Linked DNA regions of Homo sapiens: region 1 is linked to region 2. Evidence: fine-mapped expression QTL. A gene starts in region 2. The other region holds a variant in brackets. All regions are shown on one strand. Distances are between the middles of the regions. Region 1 holds the start of GPR150 (G protein-coupled receptor 150). Region 2 holds the start of ARSK (arylsulfatase family member K).

The links. PIP is the estimated chance that this variant, and not a neighbour inherited with it, causes the effect.
Region 1: its variant is fine-mapped to the expression of ARSK in sun-exposed skin (GTEx, PIP 0.97).

The regions. Positions count from the first base shown.
Region 1 is chr5:95,618,005-95,630,486 of GRCh38, forward strand. It overlaps GPR150 (G protein-coupled receptor 150), which reads left to right and starts at 2,083. Exons shown (of 1, transcript NM_199243.3): 1 at 2,083-4,138. The coding sequence starts at 2,272. The coding sequence ends at 3,576. LOC112267933 (a long non-coding RNA gene) reads right to left here. Exons shown (of 3, transcript XR_002956221.2): 2 at 5,362-5,437; 3 at 4,849-5,031. RefSeq lists enhancers at 1,639-2,254, 3,451-3,950 and silencers at 2,424-2,823, 2,914-2,963, 2,981-3,275, 2,984-3,433, 3,654-3,713. The variant T/C (reference allele first, on the strand shown) is at 5,975.
Region 2 is chr5:95,548,813-95,561,294 of GRCh38, forward strand. It overlaps ARSK (arylsulfatase family member K), which reads left to right and starts at 6,289. Exons shown (of 8, transcript NM_198150.3): 1 at 6,289-6,592. The coding sequence starts at 6,467. It overlaps SKIC3 (SKI3 subunit of superkiller complex), which reads right to left and starts at 6,165. Exons shown (of 43, transcript NM_014639.4): 1 at 6,124-6,165; 2 at 1,769-1,838.

The DNA.
Region 1 (12,482 bases), 69 kb after region 2:
TTTTAATAAGAATTAGTTTAGGCCAGGCCCAGTGGCTCATGCCTGTAATCCCAACACTTTGGGAGGCCAAGGTGGGCAGATTCTTGAGCCCAGGAGTTTAAAACTAGCCTGGGCAACATGGCGAAACTTAGCCTCTACAAAAAATACAAAACTTAGCTGGGTGTGGTGGTGTCTGCCTACAGTCCCAGCTAGTTGGGAGGCTGAGGTGAGAGAATCACCTGAGCCCAGGAAGTCGAGGCTGCAGTGAGCTATGATCATGCCACTTCACTCCAGCCTGGGCAACAGAGTGAGACCCTGTCTCAAAAAGGGAAAAAAAAAAAAAAAAAAGAATTTGTTGAAAATCAATGTTTTATCAGATCTTACTAAAGTTCTGTGAAATTTCACTATAGTCATTTTGAAATGCTAATATATAAGAGCATTTCAACAAATTTGAGACAAATGATAGACTATCTTGAGAAACACTGAAATGATACTGGCTAGGAAAATCACTGAATGATGAACATTGCTCAGAGAAGGCTCCCTGGAAGAAGTGCATTATAAACTGGGATGATGTGTGTGCATAGAAAAAGGCCTTGGATAAAAAGTTCTAAAGGGAGAGTATGAAAATCAAACCAGGATTTTAGATTTTCCAAGGCTATCACTCTAGCTTTCTTAAATGTCCCACCAGGAACACTTATTCCTATGTCTCCACAGAGCTTCCTTGGGCTCCTCTGGACAATACTGGCATAGTATAAAAGGAATTTTTTCTTAGGTGATGGATTTATAGTCAAGGCAGGCATTTATGCTCGAAGGTATCTGAAAAGCATCGTATATCCACTAATTCATCAACTCAACACATACCCACTGATAACTACAACCTGTCAGACCAGAGCGAGGCACCACAGAGATGATGATGAAAATAACCAAGGTTTCTGGCCAAAGGACAACAGCTTGGGAAATGGGATTCCTACAGCAGCTGGCAGGACTATCATGGAACCCACCAAATCTTCCTAGGCCATGAATCTTAAAGTTCCAAATGTTTCCTCAGATTGGGAATGTGAACCCTAGACAACACTCATACCTCCCTGGCCCCCAGGCCAGGAAGTACAGGAAATTCTACTTTCACCATGATTAACGTGGAGGGTGCATAAAAAGACAAATGGATGCTTCCAACAGGGAAACTAAAATGTGTTTGTGAGGAGACAAGGCTAAAATGAAAGCAGCAACATTTAATCTAAACCATTTCCTGTGACTTGGATTTCTTTTTTAAAAAAATTGGCCGCCTTATCACTTTCTTAGTCACCTTTTCTCTAGGCTTATTGGAGGCGTAGCCCCTCCTAGCAACTTCCCATCTGCTGGAAAACAGAATCAAGAGAATGAGGAGTGTGATGACGCATCCTTCACTGGATGAAAATATTAGGAGAAAAGCAATAAATGCACTACCATTTGCATAAAACCTATTAATGCCCTCTTCAGACTAATGAAATGAATTTTACATCACCAAGAAAGCAGCTGTGACCCACTGCTCCTAGTATTTGGAACGATCTGCAACACTGCCACTCCTAAAAGCAACATCATTGACTTTAGTACCCTCTAATTAAAATACTTTCATTCTTGGACAGAGAAGACACATCTTGATCAAAATTCAGCTAATAGGTCTCCTCTTTGCTCAAAACGCTGTTAGGTTTCTTGTGTTCCTGTTTTTCTCATGCTCGTGCAGATCCATGGCATTTCAAACCTTTAAAATAAAAACTAATGTCTTTTCTATTTTTTTCCTACTGGCAATCACATTGGGGTGGTGGGGGCGTGTGGTACAATCTCAGTCAAGAGGTCCTCTCTTGTGTGGGTGCTGGCATAACACTGGCCGTATACAATGGCCAAGCAAAGCGACATTCTGTCCTGCTGTGCTTTACACGTAAATAGAGAATGGATGAGGTTCTCAGCGCCCAGGGGTCCGCGGCTTCCGCGAGGGTAGCGTCGGGGGCCGCTGCAGAGATTGGAAGAGTACCCGCCGGGAATGGGAGGGAAGACGCGGGGAAGGTGGAGAATAGGAATCATGTGTGTTCCTCGAGTGTACAACCCACATTTGAGTGACAAATCACGAGGACAATCGACAAAAACAACTAAGCGCAAAGCCGCCCGAATCCATCTCCCTCTCTGTGCGTGTGCCTTTTCAACTAACTTTGGGAACTCGTATAGACCCAGCGTCGCTCCCCGCGCCGCCTCGCCTCCACTTTGGTTTCCCGCGTCCTGCCCGCCCTCTTCGGTGCCTCCTCTTCCTCCGGGACAAGGATGGAGGATCTCTTTAGCCCCTCAATTCTGCCGCCGGCGCCCAACATTTCCGTGCCCATCTTGCTGGGCTGGGGTCTCAACCTGACCTTGGGGCAAGGAGCCCCTGCCTCTGGGCCGCCCAGCCGCCGCGTCCGCCTGGTGTTCCTGGGGGTCATCCTGGTGGTGGCGGTGGCAGGCAACACCACAGTGCTGTGCCGCCTGTGCGGCGGCGGCGGGCCCTGGGCGGGCCCCAAGCGTCGCAAGATGGACTTCCTGCTGGTGCAGCTGGCCCTGGCGGACCTGTACGCGTGCGGGGGCACGGCGCTGTCACAGCTGGCCTGGGAACTGCTGGGCGAGCCCCGCGCGGCCACGGGGGACCTGGCGTGCCGCTTCCTGCAGCTGCTGCAGGCATCCGGGCGGGGCGCCTCGGCCCACCTCGTGGTGCTCATCGCCCTCGAGCGCCGGCGCGCGGTGCGTCTTCCGCACGGCCGGCCGCTGCCCGCGCGTGCCCTCGCCGCCCTGGGCTGGCTGCTGGCACTGCTGCTGGCGCTGCCCCCGGCCTTCGTGGTGCGCGGGGACTCCCCCTCGCCGCTGCCGCCGCCGCCGCCGCCAACGTCCCTGCAGCCAGGCGCGCCCCCGGCCGCCCGCGCCTGGCCGGGGGAGCGTCGCTGCCACGGGATCTTCGCGCCCCTGCCGCGCTGGCACCTGCAGGTCTACGCGTTCTACGAGGCCGTCGCGGGCTTCGTCGCGCCTGTTACGGTCCTGGGCGTCGCTTGCGGCCACCTACTCTCCGTCTGGTGGCGGCACCGGCCGCAGGCCCCCGCGGCTGCAGCGCCCTGGTCGGCGAGCCCAGGTCGAGCCCCTGCGCCCAGCGCGCTGCCCCGCGCCAAGGTGCAGAGCCTGAAGATGAGCCTGCTGCTGGCGCTGCTGTTCGTGGGCTGCGAGCTGCCCTACTTTGCCGCCCGGCTGGCGGCCGCGTGGTCGTCCGGGCCCGCGGGAGACTGGGAGGGAGAGGGCCTGTCGGCGGCGCTGCGCGTGGTGGCGATGGCCAACAGCGCTCTCAATCCCTTCGTCTACCTCTTCTTCCAGGCGGGCGACTGCCGGCTCCGGCGACAGCTGCGGAAGCGGCTGGGCTCTCTGTGCTGCGCGCCGCAGGGAGGCGCGGAGGACGAGGAGGGGCCCCGGGGCCACCAGGCGCTCTACCGCCAACGCTGGCCCCACCCTCATTATCACCATGCTCGGCGGGAACCGCTGGACGAGGGCGGCTTGCGCCCACCCCCTCCGCGCCCCAGACCCCTGCCTTGCTCCTGCGAAAGTGCCTTCTAGGTGCTTGGTGGTCAGAGACGGGTCATCTGTCGCTAAGGCGCAACCTCCAGGGAACTCGAGGCCTGCCAGGGTCTGTCCAGATCACAAGGGGCAGGAGAGTCTGTGAGAGAGTGACACTGAAGTTGTCCCCTTCCTCCACTCTCCTATTCCCTTCTCATGTTTACATTTCCCTATGCTCTTCCAGTTTCTCTTCTTCCCTACAGTTCCTCTCATATCTCCCCATTTGGAGACAGTGAGCCACTGGAAAGTTGTAAAAACAAAAACAGTTATTTTTGCAGTTTTCTTTCACGCATTTATAGTGCTCTGGATAATGCCATTTATTTTTGCTGATTACCCAACTTTCAGTATTTGCTGTGTTATCATCTGTATTTACTTATTTTGAATCGTGCTTAAATCAAATGTACCTTCAGCACCTGCAAGTTTGCCTTTTCTTTCCAGGAGGAAAATCCCCACGTTGCTCTCCCTGGGGAGTCTGAGAATTATACCAGTGCTGTCAGAAATGTAATCATGCTGTCATTTCAGAGCCACAGAGTATTTATAAAATAAAAACCTTTCCCACGGAGCAATTGGGACTTTTTTTTTTTTAACATAGTAATGTATTTTCTCAGAAGAAAATCAGCGTGGCCTTTATTTCCAGTCTAGTTTCCACTTCAACAGAAGCTGAGGTTGTAGGAAGGAAACAAAAGCTTGACTTGGTGTCTTTCAAATATACTTGGTTTCTGTTGGAAATCGTCCCTGTGCCCCCAGCAGCCTCTAAAGGTGTAATGCTATGCCCAGATGGAGCCTCTCCGTACAAAGTCCCCAGCAAACCAGAGAAAGGAAGCTTCAAGGTGGTGCATATGGGTGGGGCTCAGTGTCCCAGATGGAGCCTCAAAGAGATTTGCAGCTAGGAAGGAAGTCAAAACCTCAGAATGCTGCATGTGTATATAAAACTCCCTTGTTAAAAAAATGAATTCAATGCCTGTTGGTGTGGATAGCTGAGAACAAGGTCAAGAGCGGATTTGATCAGTAACCTCTTCCTCTCAACTGTTCTTGGTTCTAGACAGAAGTGGCAGCACTTATGAACAATATATCCATGGGTTTATCAGTGATTTTTGTATGAGGATCTAAAGCTTTCCATTATAGTGTTTCTTGTTCATGCACAAATGCAGACCTAAGATGCAGAAAGGGGAAATGATTGTTTAAAGCTCTTTGTAGAGCCAATGCTGAGGGCTGTTTTGTTCACTAATATATTCCAAATGCTTAAACAATGCTTGACATGTAGTAGGCTCTCAATATATATTTGTTGAACAATTCATCATGTGAGTTAGAGATAGAACAAATAAAAGATATACGAAAGAAAATCTTTACTAAGCTTTCTTTACCTTCCTCCAAAATTTTGACAGCAGATGTTCCAGAGTTGTAGCTTTTCCTTCCTCTCTTTGTTCCTCCTTACCCTGTTGAGGATGCAATGGTCTGCAAAATACCAGGAATAAATCAGCCAAAGAGAGGATACAGTTGTCTTCATGAACCCAAGTCTAGATTATACCATTATTTATTCATTAATAAACATTTATTACCTGCTTATTTTGTGCCAGTTAATAAGCTAGGCATTGGAGATGCTGAGATGAATAAGTCACATTTTTCCCTCAAAGACGTTATAGTCAAATGTAGGAAACAATCTGACAATTACACTGCAGTGTCACCTGTGTTATAACAGGGGAATTCAGTCAGGGTGCCAGAAGAACTGAAGAGGAGAATCTGACAATCTTGGGGGACTATGAGGGGACATTAGGAAAGACTCACCAAAAGAAGCTCTTGAAGGCTGGTTTGGGGGTGACCCTTCAGGTCAGGAAAGGTGTTCTAGGCAACGGGAATAGCACTGCAAAGCATAGAAGAGACAGAACATAGCATAGTCAAGTAATGACAATAGCTTTAGGGTGCCTTTGGGGCCTGACCTAATGAGATACGTGGTCAGAGAAATTCAGCCTGGCCCCAGTGAAGACAGGTCTGTGTGCCAAGCCAAGAAAGCAAAAAGTAGCCTTTGAAGAATTTAATCAGTTATAATTTGACCCAATTTCAATTTTAGAAAGGTCATCTCAATGATGGCATGAAGGATCACCAAATGGAAGGGTAGGGGGGAATTCTTAGATGAGAAATCAAGGCAGAATCTCAGAGAGTCTTCAGAATACGATTCCTAATGTTGGACCACTTCGAATGCGCTCAAGAGAGATAATAAATTTAAAGCAGCTGAGACAGGTTTTCTGTTTTCTGCAGTTAAGACTACCCTAACAGAAAAGCTTACTCAGCTGGCTTCAACTTATTATTTCACATGACAAGAAGTCTGGTGGTAGGGCTGTGCCAGGGTTGGTTAAGTAAGTAGCTCAACTTCATAATCAAGGGCTGTGACGGTTAATTT[T/C]ATGTGTCAACTTGACTGGGTTAAGGGATGCTCAGATAGCTGGTAAAACATCATTTCTGGGTGTGCCTGTGAGGGTGTTTCCAGAAGAAATTAACATTCAAATCGTAGACTGAGTGAAGAAGATCAATCCTCACCAGAGGTGGCAAGCATCATCCCATCTGTTGAGGGCCCACCCAAATAGAACAAAAAGACAAAGGAAATGTGAATCCTCTCTCTCTCTTCTTGGGCTGCGACACCCATCTTCTCTTGTCCTTGGACAGTTCACTTCTGTTCTTGGGCCTTCAAACTCCAGGATTTATACCAGCAGCACAAACCCCCACAGCCCCCATTCTCAGGCCTTCAGACTCAGACTAAATTTTACCACCAGCTTTCCTGGTTCTCCAGCTTGCAGACAGTATATGGTAGGACTTTTGGGCCTTCATGGTCACGTGAGCCAATTCCCGTAATACATCTCCTCTTATATATCTATATAAATGCTATTGGTTCTGTTTTTCTGGAGCAGCCTCACTCATACAAGGGCTCAGATCCTTTTCCTCTTTCCAGTCTGCCATCTTGAGTGGTGGACTTGACACTCAGGCCAGTTCCCCTTGAGGTCACAAAATGGCTGCTGCAATTCCAGGCATCACATTCAAATGTAACAATGTCCAGAAGAAGAAGGATTTCTCTTTTTTGTACCCTTTATAGAAATGAAACAACATGTCTCAGAAGTCCCCAGTAGACTCTCCTAAATGGCTCATTTGCCAGAACTATATCACATGTCCATATTTAGACCTATCATTGCAAGAGAAATGGGGCCACCATGATTGGCTTGAACATGGAACTGAGCATATGAATTGTATTGAGGGAGGGATGAAAAAACTGAGGCTCTACAGTAAAGAAAGAAGAGGAAATGCTAGTTAAAAAGGCAAGAATAAAACTTTTAAACTATTGCAAAAGTGTTATCTAGATTGGTTTTTACAATACAACAGGGGTATTCAGCTCATTGTTACCTAGAAATTTTGAGAATTCTTCATCTGGGTTGGAAATATAGAATACCAACTCAAGAAGTTAATTTGAAATCCGATTAAACTGATGTTTTCCTAGATTTTGTAGATTTAGTTAAGCCCAATTTATACGGAAATGCTTCTCTTCTTTAAGCAAGGAATTTCCTCTAATTTTAACCATATCTGAAACTTGAATACATAACTAGATGACTTGGTTCCCATCCCTGGAGGCATTTGTAGGTTAGGAAATTTGAGATATTTCCTCAGGATGGCCATCCTATTTGTGTTGACCCTAATCTGCATTTCTAGAGGCAACACAGAGATTCAGCTGTGTCCTAGTCAAGGAGGCCCCTGAAGGTTATTCAGATTTAGACTCTTGCTAGAGTAGAACATAATATTCACATCACACAGCAAAGGCAAATACACAGGTTGACCCCGAAATTGCTCTCTTTTCTAGGTTATCACCCAAATAGGAAACGACTAGAAGAGAAACCAGATCTACACACTTGCAGTTTGGAAGAAATCAAAGTTGCCCTATAAAATAGAGACAAACCATTCCTCTATTCTCTACATTTTTTGGAGTTAGATTTTAACCAAACTACTGCACACAGGACTTCAGGGAGCACTTTTCATATTGATGAAGATGTGAACATCACCAGCAGAACTGAGCAATGTGGTGGTCCTGATTTTATAGAACTTTAAAGACTAAATGCAAAGAATTCTACATCTTAAAGAAAAACCTCAGTAACATAAGGCCAAAATAAGTAAATGTGACTTATGTTGTAATTTGAAATGCAAAGAATGCAGAAAACATCCAGGAGTAATAAACCACACTAGTGATTAGTTATAAACAATATTCAAAAAATAGAATAGTCTGGCTTATCTTGTGGAAGACAGATTTAAAGCATTTTTTTCTAAGGTATGTCCTAAGAAACACAGAAGATGTTAGAAAATTTGAGGAGTTTGCCTTCTATTCCTAAAAATGTTCTGACTTGATCAAAGGGAAAATATTCTAATAAAAATGAATTGTTCTTCTTAAATTAAAATATATTTTGCTGAGTTGGGAGGCAATATAATATTATGAAAAGAGTAGAATATTCAGAGTCTAAAGACCTGAACTTGACTTTCATCTGTACAGTTAGTAGCTGTGTGACTTCAGGCGGTTTGCTGAATATTTTTGAGTCTTGGTTTTCTCATCAAGAAAATAGGAGTTAATACTATGTCCTTCATAGGATAATGTACGCAAAATATTTGATTGGGTGGAGGTAAGGGGAATCTAGGTTTGTTTCTTCAGATTCCCTCAATACATGATAGCTAATGTTATTTTCTAATACTGGCTATGAGGGATAAAAATCCAATTGAATAATATTACATGAAGGAAAGCAATAGATCTTGGAGAATTGTCATGGAAAATTAATGCAGCAATGGTAGTACTTAAAAGTAGGGAGTTGGGCCTTACAGAAGGAGTAGTGGGCATTGTTCATTGCCTTCCTAGCATTTATTTCTCCTTTTCTGACAGTTCTCAGATTCTTATTAGAATGTCTATACCTTTTATAAAAAGTCAGCACTTTGAGGAAACCTCGGTGCTCTCCAACTCCAAGACTGTGACTTGATTAGTCCATGCCACTGGAGTAATTTCTCATCCCTCTCGCCACCATATCTCGCTCAGGAATGGTCATGGGATGCAATGAGAGTGAGGGAAGTTTTTTAGGGAATCTAGGAAGGAATCTTTTAACTCTTCTGGGAAAGCCATAGAAGTTAGCATGTTCAATGTCTGTTCACACTAAAGGTAAATGAGGGAGCATGTAACCCTAATGGCTGCTGGCAGCCACTTCTCACCAAGAGGGAAGCCAGCCACAAGAGTAAGTCAACATTGTGGATATGGCAAAGTGGAGAGATGAAAAGAACTTAGGTCCTTAATGAACTCACTGTGCTGACAAGACCAAACGCTACTGAGGCCTGGCTATTGGATGTCCTAGGAAATAAGCCAATACAATTTCTTATTGCTTAAAGCAGTTGAGTTGAATTTTTTGTTATTTGTAGCACAAAGCAATCTCTAACTGAAGTAGAAGTTTGGCAAGAAAAAGAGAGTCCCATTTTAGCCTATTGCATAATGGCTTATGTTCTTTATCAAAAAATAGGAATATTCCAAGTATACTTTTATTTAGTCCATCAACCAGTATGTACTGAGGCACTGCATTGGACATTGCATTGGGCACAATGGGACAAATCCGAGAAAATCCGTTACAACTCTCACATTTTAAAAGCTATGTATTCTACAAAGAACCATAATTTTTATGATAAGCATTTTGTTGAGAAACCTCAACCTACAGTTATTATTATTTTTATTTTTAGAGACAGGGTCTCACTCTGTCACTCAGGCTGGAGTGTGGTGGGGCAATCACATAACACTTCAGTCTTGAACTCCTGGGCTCAGGCAATGCTTCAACCTCAGCCTCCTGAGTACCTGGGATTGCAAGTGTGAGCCACTGTGCCTGGCTTCAACCTACAATTATTAATGTTACAGAATATTATTTGCAAACTCTTTCTATTGCTAATTTTATTAATTAACTCATTCAATTATTTGATACTTATAAAGATTCATTCTATGCAAAGCACTATATGACCTTTATTACATACATAGATATATATCACTTATCACAGATACATGTTTCATTTAAAAGTAGCTTTTGAGTGAAAACTTAGGACCAACTATTGCTATTATGCTGCCCTTTTCCATGGCCAGATTGGAAAGTGACAATAATAAAATGTGATGGGGTAGTGTATTAGTTCATTCTCTTACCACTGTAAAGAAATACCTGAAGCTTGGTAATTTATAAAGAAAGAGGTTTAATTGGCTCACAGTTCTACAGGCTGTACAGGGAGCACAGTGGGGAGACCACAGGAAACTTACAATCTGCTCCTGGGGAGACCTCATGAAACTTACAATCGTGGAGGAAGGCAAAGGAGAAGTAGGCACATCTTACATGACTGGAGCACGAGCAAGAGAGAGAGTAGGGGAGGTGCTGCACACTTTTAAACAACCAGATCTCATGAGAACTCATTCACTACACAGTACCAATGGGGGATGGTACTAAACCATTCATGAGAACTCTGCCCCCATGGTCCAATAACCTCGCAGCAGGCCCTACCTTCAACATTGGGAAATACAATTCAACATGAGATTTGGTGGGAACACAGATCCAAACCATATCATTCCACCTCTCGCCCCTCCAAATCTTATGTCATTCTCACATTGCAAAATATAATCATGCCTTCCCAACAGTCCCCCAAAGTTTTAACTCATTCAAGCATTAACTCAGAAGTCCAAAGTTTCATCTGAGATAAGGCAAGTTCCTTCTTCCTATGAGCCTATAAAATCAAAAACGAGTTAATTACTAGCAAGATACAATAGTGGTAAAAGCACTGGGTAAATATTTCCCTTCCAAAAGGGAGAGATCAGCCAAAAGAAAGGGGCTACAAGCCCCATGCAAGTCCAAAACCCAGCAGGGCTGTCATTACATCTTAAAGCTCCAAAATAATCTCCTTTGACTGACTCCATGTCCCACATCCAGAGCACATTGATGCCAGGGATGGGCTCCCAAGGCCTTGGGCAGCTCTGCCTCTGTGGCTTTTCAGGATTCAGCCCCTGCAGCTGTTCTTAAGGGCTGGCATTGAGTGTCTGTGGCTTCTCTGGGCACAGAGTACAAGCAGTCAGTTGCTTTACCATCCTGGGGTCTGGAGGATGGTGGCCCTCTTCTCAAAGCTCCATTAGCAGTGCCCCACTGGGGACTGCGTGGAGGCTCCAACCCCACATTTCCCCTCTGTACTTCCTTAGTAGAGGTTCTCAGTAAGGGCTCTGCCCCTGCAGCAGGTTTCTTCTTGGACATCCAGGCTTCTCCATACACGGTCTGAAATCTAGGCAGAGGCTCCCAAGCCTCAACTCTTGCATTCTGTGCACTCACAGGGTTAATACCATGTGGAAGCCACCAAGGCTTACAGCTTGCACCCTCTGAAGCAGCAGCCTGAGCTGTGTCTGGGCCCCTTTTAGCCATGACTAGAGCTGGGGCAGCTGGGATGCAGGGAGTAGTGTCCTTAGGCTGTGCAGGGCAGGGGGACCCTGAACCTGGCCCAGGAATTCATTCAGTCCTCCTCGGCCTCTGGGCCTGTAATGGGAAGGGCTGCCACAAGATCTGAAATGCCTTTGAGGCCTTTCCCCTATTGTCTTGGCTATCAGCACTTGCCTTCCTTTTAGTTATGCAAATTTCTGCAGGCTGCTTGAATTCCTCCCCTGAAAATGGGCTTTTCTTTTCTATCACATGGCCAGGCTACAAATTCTCCAAACTTTTACACTCTGCTTCCCTTTTGAATATAAGGTCCAGTTTCAGGTCATTTATTTGCTCATACATATAAGCACAGGTTGTTAAAAGCAGCAAGGTCACATTTCTAAGCTGCTTAGAAATTTCTTCCACTAGATACCCTAAATCATTACTCTCAAGTTAGAAGTTTCACTGCTCCATCGGGAAGGGGCACAATGCCTCCAAGTTTTTTGCTAAAGCATAACAAAAGTAACCTTTGCTCCAGTTCCCAATAGGTTCCTCATTTCCATCTGAGGTCTCTTCAGCCTGGACTTCATTGTCCATATTACTATCAGCACTTTGGTCACAAAAGTCACTAGGAAGTTCCAAATTTTCCTTCATCTTCCTGTCTTCTTCTGAGCCCTCCAAACTGTTTCAATCTCTGCCCATTACCCAGTTCCAAAGCTGTTTCCACATTTTCAGGTATCTTTATAGCAATCCCCGACTCATGATACCAATTTTCTGTACTAGTCCATTCTTGCACTGCTATAAAGAAACACCTGAGGCCGGGCATGGTGGCTCACACCTATAATCCCAGCACTTTGGGAAGCCGAGGTGGGCGGATCACCTGAGGTCGGGAGTTTGAGACCAGCCTGACCAACATAGAGAAACCCCAACTCTACTAAAATACAAAATTAGCCGGGCGTGGTGGCACATGCCTGTAATCTCAGCTACTTGGGAGGCTGAGGCAGAAGAATTGCTTGAACCCAGAAGGCAGAGGTTGCAGTGAGCAGAGATTGTGCCGTTGCACTCCAGCCTGGGCAACAAGAGCAAAACTCCGTCTCAAAAAAAAGAAAAGAAATACCTGAGACTGGGTAGTTTATAAAGAAAAGAGGTTTAATTGGCTTATGGTTCTGCAGGCTGTACAGGGAGCACAGTGACTTCTTTTCTGGGGAGGCCTCAGGAAACTTACAATCATGGCAGGAGGTGAAGGAGAAGCAGTCACATTTTACATGGCTGGAGCCGGAGCAAGAGAGAGAGTGGGGAGGTGCTGCACACTTAAACAACTAGATCTTGTGAGAAATCACACACTATACAATACCAAGGGGGATGGCTTTAAACCATTCATAAGAACTCCACCTCCATGATCCGATCACCTCCCACAAGGCCCCACCTTCAACACTGGGGAATATAATTCAATGTGAGATTTGGTGGGGGCACAGATCC
Region 2 (12,482 bases):
CCAAATTGAAAAGGAACAAAAACAGTCTCAAATTAAAAACAAACAAAAGACCACAACCATTACATAAGGAGGAAGTTCACCATCTCTTCTATCACCCAACATTCATGAGGGTATGTATACAAACAAGGCAGGACCAACCACTACTAAACTACATGCAGCCCCCAAGCTATTTGCTGTGCACGATATAAAAAATATATAAAGAATATAATCTAAATCAAGAGAAAGACTTAAGACATATAAGTCATTCAATAATCAAATGCTAAACTAAGGGTAATGAGTGGAAGTGCAATAGGAATTTAGAGAAGGAAAGGTGTGTGGTGTGATGTTATTAATGGCTTCTATTAATAGAAGATGACAAGACTTAAAAATGGAGTGAAGAAGGAAAATTGCTCTACTCAGAGGCAAATGCATTAGCAAAGTGACAGAAGTGGGAATGAGTTGTGGCAAGTATAGGAAACAGTGAGAAAGCCAGGCTGAATGGATCAGAAGGGACTTATTAAACAGAAGAAAATTAGGTTGGGTAGGTAAATAGAGCCTCAGATTACAGATCCTGAAAGTCAAACAGACAAGTGTGAAGTTAAATACAGCAGCAAATAGGAAGCCATTAGTAATTTTTAAGTAGGTTGTTTTTAAAGACCACTATATAGAAACAAACACCATTTTTCTCTTGGTAATCAATTCTAATATTAAATGTCCTTCAGTATCTGTATGTCTCCATATGTAATTACAATTCTTCATGCTACAATGGAACCCTCTATTCTCTTCCAATTCCTTCTTCATTTGATGCAACATTTAACACAATACGCTAGCACTGAGGTCCTCTCTCACTCATGCATACACACATATATGTACGTAAGTTTCAGAAGTTTAATTTGTAAAAAGACAAAATAATCTGCCCCTTTTCAACCCTAAAAACTACTACTTCCTTTTTTTTTAATTTTTATTTTTATTTTTGAGGGGAAAGGGAAACGTCCATTCACCAATTTTCTAAACAAACCCTTATTGAGATCCAACCATCTACTAGGTACCACTTAAACCCATTTTCCTTCCGAGGGTAAAAACCTACTACCCAAAATGATTCCACGTAACCCCATACTCCTCTATTTTGGATATTTCCCTTCATTGTAAGGATTTCTAACACGTCAAAGAAACATCTAGCTCTCTTGCAAGAGAGGGAGATGTCTTTAATATTCTTCCACAATATAACTCCCTATTAATTCTTTCCGCCTTATACCTCTCCTCCCACTATTCTCCTCAATCTCAACTGTCTTTTTTTAAATAAGAGTATTCATTTTGTACGTTTTCACTCAAGTTTTTCTACTACCAACCCAAAATATTTTTATCCAACATAAATCAAGAATAAAAAGTGGCAACAACTGCACTTAAAAAGAGTTAGAAAGTGACAGTCATGCCATAAAGGCAATGATATTCCTCAAGGACAACATATATAGGTATGATATATATGTCCCCAGTTGAGGCTATGAAACCTTAAATAATATTCCAATATGCTCATACAAAGATTCCACAAAGCTAAAACAACAATAATAATAAATAGTAATGATAATGACAACGGAAGCTAATTACAGAAAGGAAAAAAAACGATATCTTTAAATCTAATAACAAAAGGTATTTTGTAATGACCCATAGTCTGACATTAAAAAAAAAAAAAAAACTATGCCATTAAATCTTTCTTCTGAAAGGAATGAGTAAAAACAATCATTAAGTAAAAATAGATTCCAATTTATTATTTAGCATTGTAGACACTTACCTTTTACCAATTATTACCACCTCTATATTCTTCCCGAATTGAATTTGATTGTTCCTTACCCATTTTCCATCTAAATTAAACAAAAACAAGTATGAGACAATCATATAAAAAGGATGACACCCACAACCCAAAACCTTCTAAACTTTTTAACGCATCAATTTTCATAATTCATAATTTAAAACATGAGAAATAATTATGTATAATTTTTAGTATTTTTATTCTTTCCCAGAGAGACACTATTCTTAATCTCCAAACTTCTGAATTGGTCTAAACTATATTCCTGGGCCTCAGATGATAAAAGGAAACTTCTACAAGAGATCAGAAGGATTTTGAGAAACCATTTCAGAAACCCAAAATACACTGATGTCAATATAAAAAAATAGAGCCAAAGAAGAATATCTACTATTTCTGTGCCATTTTTGCTTTGAATCAAGGACATCTACAGACAACTAAGGGTACTTATTTACACCCAATTTGCAGCCTAATTATATTAGAATAGAACTTTTCTCTAAGGAACATAAGGAGTATAATATAATACAATTATATTAGTTTGTAATCTAATGAAAACAGAGAAATTTTTTTAATGTTAACAATGCATTTAAATAGTCATTAAAAATAGTAACACAACTACACATCTACAAATTCTAAGGATATTTTGATAGCATCCCTGAAGTGGCTTCTGTCAAACAAAAAACAATCTAGAATGGTCCCTGCAGAGAATGGAAGTGGTTTTGAAAAACTGAATAAAGTGAAAAAAAACATGCTACTTCAGAACTAGGAAGTAAACAATGTTTAGGTGAGGCAGGTAGGGATGAACAAGGAATGAAAAGTTTCCCTAACCAAAACACTCATTAGTGATCTACCGAAATAGAAGTGTCACTCCAACAGTAGAAAGTCTTACTGGTAAGAAAAGAAAGTATGGTAATCCAAACAATGTTTAGGAAAGTAAGATAATAGTTAAAAAAGAAAAAAAAGTACAAACTTGACTATTTCACTGGCTTCTTTAGCCCTGCTAACACTTGGCTGCCCTCCTCACCCAATCTAGTTTTATCACTCAGTCACTTCAACTCTGTTCTTACAAAGTACCCTAGATCCTGTCAGCCCCTTTACTCTGTCATATCCACCCACCAAGGCTTACCCTAGTTGAGAGTGAGCTTAGGAAATCAAATGGATCTAGGATCAAAGCCATTAGGCCTTGGGTACATGACTTCATTACTCAAAGCCCATTTCCTCACTGGTAAAGTAAGAATTACATCACTTACCTGATACACACATAGATGGAGTACTTGGACATAATCTATACTAATAATGTCCTATCTACTATTATTCTCTCAATCAACTTTGCTACTTGCCATTCCTAAAACAACTAGTGTGATAACTCAGTGTTAAAAATTTTCCCTACACATTCAAATCCCCAACCGTCCTGCAACCTCCTTCTTCCTTGCTCTCTCAAGAAGTAAACTTCTTACCTATACAAACGGCCCCTGACTTACAAATGGTTGAACTTACAATTTTTTGACTTTACGATGGGCTTATCAGCATATTAAATGCATTTTGACGTACAATATTTTCAAGTTAAAATGGGTTTATCATGGTGTAACCCACCATAAGAAGCATCTGTATTCCTCAAGACAGCTATCATCAAACATGAGTACCCTCTTCATATTAGTTACTACACTACATGAATACTAGAGTACAGCCTACAACAGGGATCACTCCCTCCTCCAAACCTCCAAACTGAGCTACTCAACTGCAACTTAACAAATATTATTTTTATTATCCTATATAGACATAATTCAATTATGTCTCCCAATTCAATAAATTCTTAGACGTAAGTCTTATATTTTCAGAGCTTCTTATATACCCAACACTTACTGGATAATACATATTCAATAAATAGCTAATGATCTTCCAGCTTCCAAGGCTTACCAGTGTTAACAAAAAAATGAGTGACTGAGGGAAGTGTCTCAATCAGTAGATGTTTATTGAGCCACACTTTGAGCACACGCCTGGGGAAAAACAAGCCACAGAAGCATCTGTGACCCACACTTTCCAAAGAGGGCTTTCGGAACTCAGTATTCTAGAGGAGAGCATGCAGGAGTGAAAAATGGCGGGAGGGAAGTAGGCAGTGAGGCAAATGGTTACATTCTCTTGAGTACCTTTTCTGATAGCATAGAATTACTGATTAGCAAAAATGTTGTACGTTCACAAAAGAGTAATCAAAACAATGAGGAAACCTGAAATTATGAGAACTAGCTGAAGAAACTGGGGACTAGGAAAAATAAATAAATGGTGGCGAGGGAGTTGGGGGAAGGACTGTTGAAAGGGAGAGATTATCCATGTAAAAGTGAAGAAAAATGCACTAATGAATGGTTAAAAATAGAGGAAGATTAACTTCAACTTAAAATAGGAACTTTTAATGAGACCTATATAAATGTGGAATGAGGTACTCAATGGAAGTGTTTCCCATCACTGGAGATGAAAAAGCACAGGCTGGACAATCCACTCAGCAGGAATGTTTTAGGATAAACTGAATGTCAGATGGGAAGTAGGACTAGAAGCCTCTTAGATTCTTCCAGCACAACGTCTCTAAGGCTCTAAAATATCTGTCTTGCTCCAAATCACTGCAGCACCTGCTCCTATTGACACTGCCAAGGGGAGAAAGAAGAAAAAGATGTATTCTTGTAAGCCTGTCATCAGAGTACATGTCCTGTGGAAACAAGGCTGTAGAGAGTAAGCACAGTTTATGGAATCAGACACAAAATTAAATATAACTTTTATGAATTTAAATGTCAGTCAATATTGTCACTATGGTAGAAAATACGTTCTACATTCCAAATTAACTCAAAACAAATTTGTTTTTATGAGAGAGCCCACTTGTATTACCTTCCGTGCTGTATTATTATTTCATGTATGCTTGGTTTTGCTTCCCTGAAATCTAAACTCATGTAAACTGAGACTATTGTTTAGGGGTTTTTTTGTTTTTGTTTTTTTTTTGAGATGGAGTTTTGCTCTTGTTGCCCAGGCGGAGTGCAAAGGTGCGATCTCAGCTCACTGCAACCTCCACCTCCTGGGTTCAAGTGATTCTCCTGCCTCAGCCTCCCTAGTAGCTGGGATTACAGGCGCCCGCCACCACGCCCAGTATTTTGCGTATTTTTCGTAGAGACGGGGTTTCACCATGCTGGCCAGGCTGGTCTCGAACCCCTAACCTTCGGTGATCCGCCCGTCTCGGCTTCCCAAAGTGCTGGGATTACAGGCGTGAGCCACCGCGCCCAACACTGTTTACGTTTTTGCATGCTCCCGCAGATCTTTATCATGCTGCTTGAGTAACAATTCTGCTACACTAACAGATAAACTAACTGCAGACAGAGCATTTAGTGAGTTACGGCACAGACTCTTCAATTTTCAGTCGTGCTCTGACTGGCTCCCTGTGTAAACTCAGGCCAGTCATTTAACCTCTCTAAGCCTGTTTTCCTATCTGCAATATGGTGAAAGTGAGGATTATAGAAAATATTCCATATAAAAGTACGTGGCACGCAGCAGATGCTCAGTAAATGCTTAGTATAACGCTCAGCACCTAAGTGCCATGTGAGTATTAAATAAACAAATCTGTTCCTTACTACAATTATCTTAGGCAAAAAAAAACCTGCCAGATATTAGTATTCAGTTGACTTAAGTAAGTAGTATAACTCCTCTTTTAACTGTCAGAATATTAAAACTACTAGTGTGATGTGCAAATTATATACCCGAAACTAGATACAGAAATTGGAATTTGGCTTTGGGACAGAAATCTGCTTCTTCCAGAACTCTCCAAAGGAATTCAACAGTCAAAAGAGACCGGTTTTTATTCTGCAGCAAAACAATGATATTCTGAACCTACGTCAACTAACTGAACATGTCACACAGCCCATTTCCCCCTCCAGTTTCGCTTATCTCCTTTGCTCTCTGAAGGCAAGGAACAGCTATGCTTTCCCCTGCCTACAGCCTGAAACTTCTTACTAGGCCCCGCTCCTCGCCCCATGGGAGCACAGTAAATCCTGACTGCACGGGGTAAGAGAAGCAATAAGATGAGACAGGCTAGAGATTTCCCTGGGAAGGTATTCGGGGGGGTCTAAGGCATTCACGGCGCACCTGAGGCGGTCCACCCAGAGGCCCCACAAGGCACCGCCCTATTCAACTTAAGTGACAGCCGCGCCGCCACCTCATCGCCGCCCAGTTCACGCTCTCGCCGAACACTCAGCCACGCTTGCGCGGCCCAAAATGAACAGCCCCGGCCCCGATCCTTTCTTTCTCTAAGTACCATTTCAATCGCCTTTAGGATCCCTTGTGCAAAACCGACAGAAATCCAAACCCACCTGGAGCAGATGCTCCTCTTCTACAAACGCCGAGGCTGCAATGAGAGCGCATGCGCCTTTCCCAGGACTCATTCACGTGACTGGAAGTGGCTGGGTTCTGATTTGCTCGGTATTTGATTAAAAGGTCTTAACGTGGGTAAAAGCGGGAATTTCTCTGTTGCGCATGTGCGCGCTCTCCGCCTGATAGGAGTTGTAGTTCTGCGGGTGAAGCTCGGCGTTACTATCAAGCAACCAAACTGCAAGCTTTGGGAGTTGTTCGCTGTCCCTGCCCTGCTCTGCTAGGGAGAGAACGCCAGAGGGAGGCGGCTGGCCCGGCGGCAGGCTCTCAGAACCGCTACCGGCGATGCTACTGCTGTGGGTGTCGGTGGTCGCAGCCTTGGCGCTGGCGGTACTGGCCCCCGGAGCAGGGGAGCAGAGGCGGAGAGCAGCCAAAGCGCCCAATGTGGTGCTGGTCGTGAGCGACTCCTTCGTAAGTACCGCGAGGCAGGGGAGGGGCGCCCCGCTGGGGATCGGCGACCTCACCGCCGCCGCCTGTGCTGCAGGCTTTGGGGAGCAGAACCTGAGACATTTTCAAACACCTTTTACCCCGATGCAAAGAAAGAAATACATTTTATGTGAGGCCCCGTGTACTCACACGTACACCACATACCTATGCAAACATGTAAAACAATAGTGAAACACTGAAAACATCTTTGCAGATCTTTTTTTTTTAATACTGACCTCGATTCGCTAAATTATTTTACCACGACTAATGAACTTTCAGTCCATACCCCCGTTTGGTTTAATTGTGTGGTAAAATAACATTCTGCATCTCCATAAAAGCGTGTTAGCTTTCCAAAAGTCATTTTCCAGTTCACCTCAAGTTTGCAGGAATTCATGTTTGGGTGAGAAGTGAAGAAAGTTTATTTTTATTACCCAGGTCTGTGATAATCCTGTTAGTGCTGATTCAAATGGAATCGTTGGTATAACTTGATTCACTCCCCCGTATTCCAGAGAAATTGTGTGTATGTGTGTGTGTTGGTAATGTGGCTGAATCCCAAACTTAAACAGTTTTTGAAACTTTCCCAAGCCAAAGGTGCTACTGTCAACCTTACGCGATGCTTTTAGGATGATCCATGTTTTAAAAAGTGCTGCTTAGACAATTGTTTGGTTATTAATTGTAATATTAGTTTATTATCACTCGGTGTTACTGTGGTCACACAGATGTTGGTGTTAAGCATATCTGGCACTAAAGAGTGTTTGTAATCATATGTTGTATTTCCTTTCTCGTAGATTCCTGATGATTAAAATTACATAGTCTGGATGTGCCCATGGGATTTTTTGAAAATATTACTTAAAGTTATCTTTGTGATTTAAACTTAGAGAATGGGCAGTACTGGAAATTGACTAGATGGCATTTTATTACAGAGTGCTCTTGTAATCAAAGGCAAATGAAGGAAGCAGGATTGTGCAGAGGAGAAGCTGAATTTTGTTGCCATCTTATGAATGACAGTTCTCAAACTAGTATGGTGCTTCAGAGCTGCTTTCCAATAGGAGTGAGGAGAACAGACCTTTCCACCTGCATGTTGGATGGCCACTGGTTGTGGGCTGCTCCTAGAATGGGGCATGGTGTTGGGCAAAGCAGCTGTCTTCAGCAGAGGCAATTGTTCATTCCTAAAAGGGAATCCGAATGTGGATCACAACATCCCAGAAACTTCCAAAGATGACTGAGATATATAGGTTTGTTATTTTTTTTAGTGTAGTATGAATGCATAGATTTTTCTATATTTGTGCTTAAATTTTTTGCATTCACGGCCGGGCGCGGTGGCTCACGCCTGTAATCCCAGCACTTTGGGAGGCCGAGGTGGGCGGATCACGAGGTCAAGAGATCAAGACCATCCTGGCTAACACAGTGAAACCCCGTCTCTACTAAAAATACAAAAAAATTAGCCGGGCGTGGTTTCGGGCGCCTGTAGTCCCAGCTACTCGGGAGGCTGAAGCAGGAGAATGGCGTGAACCTGGGAGGCGGAGCTTGCAGTGACCTGATATCGCACCACTGCACTCCAGCCTGGGCGACGGAGCGAGAGTCCGTCTCGAAAAAAAAATAAAAATAAAAATAAAAAAATTTTTAAAAAATAAAAAATAAAAAAAATTTTTGCATTCACATACTTGTTAATATTCAAACTGTCCTATCTTTGGCCAGTGGAAGCCCCTTCAGGTGGTTCTGAGTCCTTTTGACCCATCCCCATTAGTATTTGACAGCTTGCTTTAACAGAGTTCCATGTCCACAATACATATTTCCTGTCCCATCTTGTATTTAGAGACCACAGTCTGAGTGTTAGGGTGTTCATTGCATCTAGACCTTTCCAGTGGACAAATCTAGAAAGTATATAATATTTTAGAATGAGAAAAATAAATTGTGAGATCATACTGATACTTTCCATTCAAATTTAAGATTACAAGTTTATTCTTTGATTTTTATACTTATATCTTTTTTGTTTTATGCCAAATATTTTGGTCTAAATGCATTAATGCAATTACTTATTTGCTTTATCCAAACATATAATATGTATATATCAATGTGTTTGAAAATAAGACTGTAATATTACTAGAAATAATGCTAGTCCTGAGTGCAGCTTACAGTTTCTTTGAAGTTTTTGTTTTAGGTATATTCAACTATATAGTAAAAATGTTGGTCTTTAAACTTAAAATAATTCCTCTCTCTATGATTATACCAGTTTGGTATGCTGTTAGATTCTTGACACTGTGATTTATCATTTCTAAAACTCTGCAGGCTAAGATAGAGCAGTTAAGCTGGATAATAATTGTAGGAAGAAAATAGCAAATTGGTTTTACTTTCAGGATAACAACGCAAGAGCTTTGTAGATCAACTCCCAAGAAAACAAGCAAACCAAATGAAAACTCTTTTTTAAACTATACATAAAAACTATTAAATATTTGAAACACTTAAAGTGTCTGGAAACTGTCCTAAGGTCATACACCAAATGAAGAAACATTTATTCAAGAAAATCTATGAAAACTTGGTAAGAATAGCAAGAAGGGTCTGTGGCAGTGAACTATAGTTTTGACAGAGGTTTCACTCAGGTGGGTGTGGCCAAGAAGATAGGACTACTCCCCCTCGGCTCCCAATCACCAGTTATGGTATCTCACCAAAAGGGACAGGCTGTGAGATTTCTCATCTTCTCCTAATCCAAGTTGGAGAGGTTAAATTCCTAATGAATGCAGCTGAGAAGTTGAGGGCTCCCTTACTTCAGTCAGCCCCCACTTACAGGACAGAGGCTTTATGCCAAGTGCGGAAAGTTGAGAATCCTAGGGCCCTAATTGCCCTGGCCCTAGCTCTCTAGTAGGACAGAGGTTCCATACCAGGAGAGACAAGCTGAGAAGACCAAACAAGCTTCTGCAAAGCAAGCAGAATGGAGGAAATAATAAGGATTAGGGCAGAAATTAAAGAAACAGAGGATGGAAAAATAGTAGAGAAAATCAATGAGACCAAAAATTGGTTCTTAGACAAAATCAGCAAAATTGACAAACCTTAGCTATACTGAACAAGAAAAAAGACAAAAGAGCTAGATGACTAAAATCATGAAAGAGAATGGTTACATTATCTTAAGAAATAAAAGAATTACAAGGGAATACTTACATACAACAACTGTATGTCATCAAATTAGATAAATGAAATGGACAAATTGCTAGGAAGGCAGAAACTACTGAAACTGACTCAAGAAGAAATAGGCAATCTGAATAGACCTATAAGAAGTAAAGAGGGTAAACTGGTAATTTTAAAACTACCAACAAAGAGAAGCACAGACCCAAACGGTTTCACTGATAAATTCTACCAAATACTTAAAGAATAATTAATACTAATTCTTCATCTACTCTTCCAAAAATTAGGAGAGAACACTTCCAAACTATAAGACCAGTTTGGCCGGGCGCGGTGGCTCACACCTGTAATCCCAGCACTTTGGGAGACCGAGGTGGGTGGATCACCTGAGATCAGGAGTTCGAGACCAGCCTGGCCAACATGGCGAAACCCTGTCTCTACTAAAAATACAAAAATTAGCCAGGCGTGGTGGCAGGCACCTGTAATCCCAGCTACTCGGGAGGCTGAGGCAGGGAGAATTGCTTGAACCCAGGAGGCAGAGGTTGCAGTGAGCCGAGACGTGCCATTGCACTCCAGCATGGACAAAAGAGCAAGACTCCATCTCAAAAAACAAAAACAAAAAAACAGTTCATGCCTGATTCCAAAGCCACGAATACATCACAAGGAAAGAAACCCACAGACCAGTATCCCTTAGGAATATAAGAGCAAAGATCCTCAACAAAATGGATTTGGCCCTCCATATTCACAGGTTCTGAATCCGCAGATTCCACCAATCTCAGATAAAAATATATGGTATTTATGGGATGTGGAACTCACAGAACTTGACTTTTCCTATCCATGGGTTCCACAGGGCTGACTGTGGGACTTGAGCCCGCAAAGATTTGGTATCCTTGGGAGGTCCTGGAAACAATCCCCTGCAGATACCAAGGGACAAATGTACTAGGAAACCAAATTCATTAGTATGTAAGAAGGATTATTCACCATTACCAAGTGGAATTTGTCCCCAAAATGTACAGTGAGTTTAATATCTGAAAATCAATTAATGTAATACATCATGTTGACTGAATAAAGGACAAAACCCATGTGATCATCTCAATAGATGCAGAAAAAGCATTTGAGAAGATTTGACAATCCTTATGCATTCAACTGGCTAGAAATAGAAGGGAACTAAAAGGCATCTACAAAAAAAGCCAGAACTTTACACTGAATGGTTAAAAGAAAAAAAAAATCAGTTTTCTGACTAAGATCAGGAAGAAGACAAGGATGTGTGTTCTCACCACTGCTATACAGCATTGTACTGGGGGTTCTAGCCACAGAATTAGAAAAAAGATTAAATAAAAGGCATTCACATTGGAAAGGAAGAAGTAAAAGTATCTATACTTGCAGTAATCTTGTATGTAGGATTCTACGGCTCCACTACAAAACTATTGAACTAATAAATTAGTAAGGCTGTATACCAGATCAGTGTACAAAAATAAATTGTATTTTATATACTTAATTGATTAACACACTTATAGTCAAATTAAGAAAACAGTTCCATTTAAAGTAACATCAGAATGGATGAAATACTTAAAATAAATCTAATCAAGGAAATATAGTTCTTATACTCCGAAAACTACAAAACATTGTTGAAAGAAATAAAAGAACATTTAAATAAATGAACAGACATCCCCTTTTCATGGATCAGAAGATTTAATATTGTTAATATAGCAGTACTCACCAAAATGATCTACAGATTCAATTCAATGCCTGTCAAAATCCCTAGAACCTTTTTTTTTTTCTGCAGAGATGGAAAAACCCATCCTAAAATTCATATGGTAATTCAAGGGACCCAGAATAGCCAAAAATAAATCTTGAAATAAAAAGAACAAAGTTGAAAGACATACACCTCCCAATTTTAAAGCTTATATCTTAACTACACCAATCAATGTAGTATGTTATTGGCTTAAGGATAGGTGACATACAGATCAATGGAATAGGATCTAAAGTCCAGAAATAAACTCTCATATTTATAGTAAATTGATTTTTTAACAAGGGTGCCAAGACCATTTAATAGGGAAAGAATGATCTTTTAAACAAATGGTGCTGGAAAAAAAAAATATGAATGAAGTTGGACCCTGCCTTGCACCATACACAAACACACAAAAAAAAACTTTAAGTAAATTGATTGATTAATCAAATGTAAAACTAAAAAACTCTTACAAGAAAACATAGGTGTAAGTCTTTGTGATTGTGGATTAGGCAATTAAAAGATGGGCAAAAGATCTTTTTTTTTTTTTTTTTTTTGAAATGGAGTCTCGCTCTGTCACCCAGGCCGGAGTGCAGTGGCGCAATCTCGGCTTACTGCAACTTCTGCCTCCCAGGTTCAAGCCATTCTCCTGCCTCAGTCTCCTGAGTAGCTGGGACTACAGGTGCCCGCCACCACACCCAGATAATTTTTTAATTTTTATTTTTAGTAGAGATGGGGTTTCACCGTATTAGCCAGGATGGTCTCGATCTCCTGACCTTGGGATATACCCGCCTAGGCCTCCCAAAGTGCTGGGATTACCGGCATGAACCACCATGCCCGGCCAAAAGATCTTAATAGACATTTCTTCATAGAAGATACGCAGATGACAAATAAATACATGAAAAGATGCTCAACATCATTAATCATTCGGGAAATGTAAATCAAAACCACAGTGAGACACCAGTTATACCCACTGGGATGGTTATAATGAAAAAGACAATAACTAGAGATGGCAACAATGTGGAGGAA